Linked DNA regions of Homo sapiens. The protein of the gene in region 1 interacts with the protein of each later gene in a pairwise test. Each region holds a gene or a part of one and is shown in the gene's direction. Other genes may lie near its edges. The genes, in order: GULP1 and SMC2.

The links.
Region 2: the proteins of GULP1 (region 1) and SMC2 interact in a two-hybrid assay, tested with the Homo sapiens proteins (one large-scale study listed by BioGRID and IntAct).

The regions. Positions count from the first base shown.
Region 1 is NC_000002.12:188,588,721-188,592,556, forward strand, and holds part of GULP1 (PTB domain-containing engulfment adapter protein 1), read left to right. Parts: exon of another isoform or gene 1-1,019; coding exon of another isoform or gene 1,020-1,030; intron 1,031-3,836. UniProt on the Homo sapiens protein: May function as an adapter protein. Required for efficient phagocytosis of apoptotic cells. Modulates cellular glycosphingolipid and cholesterol transport. May play a role in the internalization and endosomal trafficking of various LRP1 ligands, such as PSAP.
Region 2 is NC_000009.12:104,114,678-104,118,513, forward strand, and holds part of SMC2 (structural maintenance of chromosomes protein 2), read left to right. Parts: intron 1-13; coding exon 14-152; intron 153-1,522; coding exon 1,523-1,642; intron 1,643-3,493; coding exon 3,494-3,698; intron 3,699-3,836. UniProt on the Homo sapiens protein: Central component of the condensin complex, a complex required for conversion of interphase chromatin into mitotic-like condense chromosomes.

The DNA.
Region 1 (3,836 bases):
AAAGTAAGGAGAAGGAGGTATTTTTGTTTATTAGTCTTGGGTTAATACATTAATTCTCTATGCCTCACTTCCTAGAAAAAACAATTATGGGTGAACACTGATCTATCACTGATAATTGCAATCCTTCTTAGAAAGTTAATTTAAATGCCCTTTTACTCATTTTTGACTGCAGCTGTGTAGCTATCTTATTTTCTAGGTAGTACATGAATTCATTATTGTTCTAGATGTAATAACATGCCTGAATTTAAAAGTTGAATTACTTAACATATGTCTTGAGGTTTTCAAAGAATCTATTAAAACAGTGTTTCTCAAGTTGAATGATTCTTAATCCCCTTTTACATAAAAATTGTTTTAGATCCTTAGTATTAACTTACAATTTTTAAATATTGACAAAAATGTTATAAACAACTTGTCCTTATGGTTTTTATAAAATTATGAATTCAATAAATTATAAATTAAATGAAAGCCAAATTGCAACACCAATACAGGACGGATGATCTTATTTGGTTAAAGCTAAAACCACCTTATCAAATTTCTATTGATTTCAACATGTATTCTATCTGATGGCACAGATTTCCTAGTTCTTTTCTATATTTCAAACGCTATGAAACTTTCAAATGGCGCATGATAATTTAGCAAGAATGCTGTATTTCATATGAAATCAATTCCTTTTCTTTTACATTAGTTTTACCCATTGGACATGTACTATCTGGTACTAATGCTTTTGTAGTAACAAAGAAATATTTATGTGGTAGTATTTATTCTCAAGGGTTGCACAGGTCATACAGAGTACTTCTCTAAAAATTTTTTAGATTTTCCCAAAATTGGAAAAAAAATTATGGAGTTTTAAGGATAAGCCTCTATTTCCAGATTTTGTTGAAACCAAGTGTGAGACACAATGTATTGGGATGATTGAGTGATGGTGACACTCAATGTTAAACCGTGGTGTTTTTGCTTTTGCTGTTTCTAATATTTTCTTAATGTCTTTTTAAATTCTTTACTGCTTTCATGGTGGGTAGCGCCAGAGATGGTTGGTATATTATTTTTATAATAATTTTAAACAACTTACAAATTTTTAAAGCTGAAACCTTAAAATTTGCATGCCTTATTTAATAAAAATTCAAACAACAGCTTCATATGGGTATATCTGATAATTAGTTATGTTTAGAGAGGTTTTATAAACCACATTTTAAGATTATTTTTCAGTGACTTAGTCACTATTGCATTGTTCACTTCATTGTTTCCTTTCTTTTCTTTTTTTTTTTGAGGCAGAGTCTCACTCTATCGCCCTACCCAAGCTGGAGTGCAGTGGCATGATCTTGGCTCACTGCAACCTCCACCGCCCGGGCTCAAGCAATCTTCCCTCCTCAGCTTCCTGAGTAGCTGAGACTACAAGTGTGCACTACCACGCGTGGCTAATTTTTGTATTTTTTGTTAAAAACAGGGTTTCATCATGTTGTCCAGACTGGGCTTGAACTGCTGGGCTCAAGCGATCTACCCACTTAGACCTCCCAAAGTGCTTGGACCACAGGCATGAGCCACCATACTTGGCCATGATTGTTTCTTTTAGTCCAATATTTACTTGCAAGGTCACTTTAACAAAAGTAAAATAATATTTTCTTCATCTAAAGTCTATGATGGCTTTTATTATTAATCGTGCTAGCCTAATGAATCTAATGCAGACATTTAGCTATCTTTGCATATCATATAAAAACTTAATATAGTACAATGGGTTGTGAACACCATATTGAGTTAATAAGCCTAGTGAGACATTTAGTTTTCATCTTTCATTTACAGAGTATTGTGACTAAGCTATTTTTAAGAGAATCGAATTATTAAGTTTGAAATCACAGAAACATCTCATGCATGTAAGCATTTATGCAGAAATGTTAGACCATATTTCAGTATAAGCAGTTAGAAAATTAAACATCTATTTGAAATCAATAATGTAGCTATTTGATTTGACATAATTTAAACTGTCCAGTACATGTCACCAACAGGAAAATAAGTGGAATAGTATTGATAGCCCACACTGTAACATGTGAGCTATAATAATTTAATACATTAAAAAACAAGCATGGCAAGTTCATGAATGATGAAAGAATCATGTATGAGTGGTGTTAAGTCAGCTAGCTAGTACTCTGGGAGAAGATCAATGTACTGCTGAAACTTACAGCAAATGCCGAGATAAATTTCAGAAGTAATCAACATTTTAAAATATTTAAAATATTATTGAATATTCATCAGACTTTTGAATTGAAAAGAAAATTTTATAAGGAAAAGAAAAATACGGACATATAGTATCCAATTTTTTAAAATTTACTGTCTAAAAATATATAAATACATTACATATACATAATTAAAGCAATTAGACAAATGGCTAGGAAACTAAAGAATCAACAGATAAATAAAAAAGCACTAGTTCACAAAAGAAGACCACAAGTGGCTTACACATATGTAGACATGTTCTGTCTAATCAAAGTAAACATATAAATCAAATAAAGAACTGTAATGCTATTTTAATCTAGCAGATTATTTTTTAAACTAATAATCAATCAATACAACTGAAAGTGTGATAAAACAAGCACTGTAAATTGTTGGCAGTCCAGAGTTAGTTCAGAGGTAACTATGGCCTAGCAGTCTCTTTAAAGGGTAGCTTGTTATTAATACTTTTATTTCTGTTTGATATCAAAACTTTAAAGCAATCTATTCTGATGAAAAAATAAGTATGAATGTGTTCAATCTCTGCGAATAAAAATACCTAGTCAACATTATTCATAATTTTAAAATGCTGAACGATTTTTTTTCAAATCAACGTAAAATGCATTTTTACGATGGAAACAATCATAAAAATTAATAGCATTTTATATAGTCATAATAAATTAGTTTTGTGGGAATTTAAAATAATCAGGGTCTGCAAAGATGAAAAGAGGAAGATAGAAAACTATATGTAATATATTACTTACATAAGAAAATTATATGGCATAAATATATATTCATATTATCATTAAAATCATTTTTAAAAATGTATAGATAGAAAAAAAGACATACCTCAAAATGTAGTGATTTTTCTTTCCTTGATATGCTTTTCTATTTCAAAATAAGAAAATTCATCAAAATCTTTCGTATAAAAAGCATATGGTGAATAATACTTTAATTATTTAATCATTCTTTTGTGTGACGTTAGCTTATGATAATTCCCATCACTACATAAGTAAATAAAGTCTCATTTTTATTAAGAAGTTTGAAGCTCAACAGGTGTGGGAAATTTTATCTGAGGAAGAAAGAAAATCAAGAAACCTTATAATATGTAAGGATCCTTAAAAAGTCAATATGGAGATAGATATTATTGTAAGTCATATACTAACACTTTATTATTAAAATAGTGATTGACCTCTGTTTTACTTTGGCTGCTATTCTGCTTTTCCAATATTGATAACACATTGACAAATAGTATTTTCAGGGTAATTGAAGTGATACTGGTTTACTAGCAGAATGAACTGATAAAATTTAAAAGTACCGTATGGTATCAAACATTTCCACATGTAACTCTCTTTCTATCTGTCATTATCTATCAATGTATCATCTATTTACCATTTGTAATATACCAGAAGATGACATAATATACAGATCTTCAGATATCCAAATAAAATAATTTTAAAGAAAAGTTTACTTACAGTATTTTAGTTTAAAGTATTTATTTTTCTAAGTATTTGCTGGCTGTTTGAAAAATATAAATAAATATGGCAAAATGTATTTTGTGATAAGAATAGATTTTTAAAAAATAATGATAAGTAGTCTCATATTTACTCAACTAAATAAAGATTGTATTCCAA
Region 2 (3,836 bases), on another chromosome or scaffold:
TTTTGTATTTCAGGGATCCAGAGAAGAACTGGAATAGAAATTGTGTGAAAGGACTTGTGGCTTCTCTGATTAGTGTGAAAGACACTTCTGCAACCACAGCTTTAGAATTAGTGGCTGGAGAACGACTCTACAATGTTGTAGTAGACACAGAAGTAAGTTGATTTTAATTTTAAAAAATTTAAAATTTGGTTAGCTTGAAAAGTCATGTGCTGCTAAAAGAATTAAATACTTTGATGTTTTAAGGCTCTCCCCTAAGGTGACTTATTTATAGGGTAAAACTATTTGGTTCATAACTTTTTGATAACTATTCCAAAGGAGGTCTCATGCTTACTCAGAAACTCAGAATGCATATTACCAATCTTAAACTTTTGGGATCTCTTTGCTGTATAAGTTGAATTTAATTTGTAAAATAATCTGGGAATAAATGACCTGTTTTTGATGTCAGTCTTCCCATCAAGGTAACATTGAATTTATTTACATTTCTTCAGTTCTCACTTATTATCCTTCTGTAGAATGCTCATATTCTTTCCTGTAAATGCTACGTAGTCATTGTCAAATTTACTTCCTTGTTTTTTTTTTAATTTATTTTATATATATATTTAAAATGTACAAGAAGCCTGGGTATGGTGGCTCACACCTGTAATCCCAGCACTTTGGGAGGCTGAGGTGGGCAGATCATTTGAGCCCAGGAGCTCGAGACCAGCCTCAGCAACGTGGCAAAACCCCATCTCTACTGAAAATACAAAAGTTACCCAGGCGTAGTGGCGTGCGCCTGGAGTCCTAGCGACTCTGGAGGCTGAGGCACAAGAATTGCTTGAACTTGGGAAGTGGAGGTTGCGGTAAGCTGCGGTAAGCTGAGATTGCACCACTGCGCTCCTGCCTGGGCAACAGAGGAAGACTGTATCTCAAAAAAAAAAAGAAAAAAACAAACGTACAAGATGTTTTGATACATATACATAGTGAAATGATTATTGTAGTCAGACATATTAACATAGCCATTCACCTTCCATAGTTACCTTTTTTGTGTGTGACAGCACCTAAAATTTACTCTTAGCAAATTTTCAGTATATAGTATTAATTATAGTCCTCATGCTATACATTACATCTCTGAATAGGTAGATTTATTTATCCTACCCAACTGCAAATATGTACCCTTTGACCTATGACCTACTTCTACCCATTTTCTTTCACTCCTCATCCCTGATAACCACTATCCTACTCTTTTTATTTGTTCAGCTTTTTTTTTTAAAAGATTCCATGTACAAGTGAGGTCATACAGTTTTTTATTTTTTCTTCGTCTGATTATGTCACTTAGCATCATGTCCTCTGGGTTTATTCATGTTGTCCCAAATGGCAGCATCTCCTTTTTCAAGTTCAAATGATGTTCCATTGCATATGTAATTATAACTTGATTGGGATAAATGGCACTAAACATTCATTTATTATAGACTACTAAACTTGCATTCTCTCAATTTTCTGTCATTTTTAACATGCGTTTTTTAAATTCAAATGTGTGTTGTAGGTTACTGGTAAAAAGCTACTAGAAAGGGGGGAACTGAAACGTCGATACACTATAATTCCACTCAATAAAATTTCAGCCAGATGTATTGCACCAGAAACTCTGAGAGTTGCTCAGAATCTTGTAAGTCTCATTTTGTCTTATTTATATGTTTAATCGTCATCTGTGGTTTTTTTAAGTTAGAAGACATTAATTTTGAGGGACATAATCATATGCAGAACCACAAAATTAAAATACAAAAAAATTGGGTTGGCTTGTGCAATTAGATGATAAGAGAATAGAGATGTTGGAAGACTTGAACTCCTTTTGATGCTTCACTTTGTGGTATTAGAATGTCCTTTTTAACCTTAAGTCACATGACTATCAATCAGGTGATGGTGAAAATTACACTCTTGATTCCTGAATGGTTAGAACTGAGCTTCTAGATACGTACCCCAAATTCTTCAAGTTTTTGTTTTTGTTTCTTTTTATGTCAGGCATACTAAAACTGCCCACAGTCACAGCCATTATGGAAGGCCTTCATTAGTATTGCAGTGATGCTTCTTTATTAGAGTTCTTCTAGATTGCTATTCAGCCTGTGCAGGTACATAGCAGGTGACCAGGATCCCATTCAACTGCTGACGTTGATCTAAAGTGACATGCTTGCTAGTAAGAAAATAGATTAGTACAAGGAAATACATTTAAAAGTTATTGTAGTTGTGTAATACTGTAAAAACATGAAGTCAGTCATAACATTCAGCTGTAATATCAGTTTTTTTATTGATCAGACATTCCAAGTACATCAGTTGAAAAGACATTTCTATGAAACTTAAAAATATACTTGTAACTAAGTGGATGTTGTTGTATCCTTAGTTACATTCAGAAGATTTCAATGCAAATGATTTCAAAATACAGTTGTGTTGATATGTATACTATCAGGAGAGGGAGGATGAGTGCTGAGTAATTGAAAGGTGATGTTTTTGGTTGGTACTTTCTTTACTTGAAAACTCACCATTAAGTCAAGAAGGCTCAGGAAGTTAATTCAGCCATACATCGAGTCCCAGCATTAGAAGGAAATTGGGATTTCAAGTAACAGCAAAAATACTTTGCCTCAAATCCTTTAGCCAAACCTATTTGATGGTAGCTGCCACATCAAAGAACAATACTGAACATGTGTTACATAGAGCTTCCTTCATTGTGACTGCCACTGCTGATACTAAGCTCTAAAAGAGATGCTTAGTTTTTCTTAAATGATGGGCAGAGGTAGCCTCTATAAACAAAGGCTGAGAAGAAGCATTGTGATCAAAATAGAGGACTGGGGATTTTTTAAATTACTTTTACTCTCAGTTATTGTGTTTTCATTTCTGTAACTGGCAGACGACTGCTCTAGCATGTTTCATTTGTATGAGAAAATATTTGTTGTGAAATCAAATTCCTGATTATTGAAACAACATTTTCATATAGTTGTGTTGATCTGGAAATTATAGGTTAAGCACTCCAAGTCCAACAACTGAAATTTTCCAAAATTCAAAACTATGACACCCAAAAAATGCTCATTGGAGTATTTTGGATTTAGAAAGTTCAACCACTGTAATACAAATATACCAAAATCTGAAAACAAACACTTCTGTTCTAAGCATTTAGGATAAAGGATACTCAATCTGTACTATAATTAAAGTTGTGTCCAGTCAACGTTGGTGAAGGACACTTAGAAACATGGTAATGGCTCCTTATTGATAGAAACTTTCATAATGCTCCATACTAGCTATTAATAAATATTTTACTTAGCAATAAATCTTTCAGTATTTAAACCTGCAGTTTTTTTTTCCTGAAACTTTGAGTTTTACATAGCTTTTTAGAAAATTCAGAAAGAGTTTTAATGCTAGGTAAGTATTATTTAAGTTTCTATTACAGCAGTTTTTACTGGTTTATAAAATCATATCTGAAAGGAAAAGTAGTAGTATGTACTGTGGCATATCTGTTGTTGTCCCACAGGTTGGCCCTGACAACGTTCATGTGGCTCTTTCCTTGGTTGAATATAAACCAGAACTTCAGAAAGCAATGGAGTTTGTCTTTGGAACAACATTTGTTTGTGACAATATGGATAATGCCAAAAAAGTGGCCTTTGATAAGAGGATAATGACTAGAACTGTAACTCTCGGAGGTGATGTGTTTGATCCTCATGGGACATTGAGTGGAGGTAAGTTTTATATCCTTTTCTCCTCACAATTCTTTGTGGTAAATAGGAAGATGCCTTTTTTAAGTACATTTTTAGCCCAACTACCCACTTCTTCAGGAAACATGTTAACTTCTCATTTGTGTGTTTGCCAGTGCCACC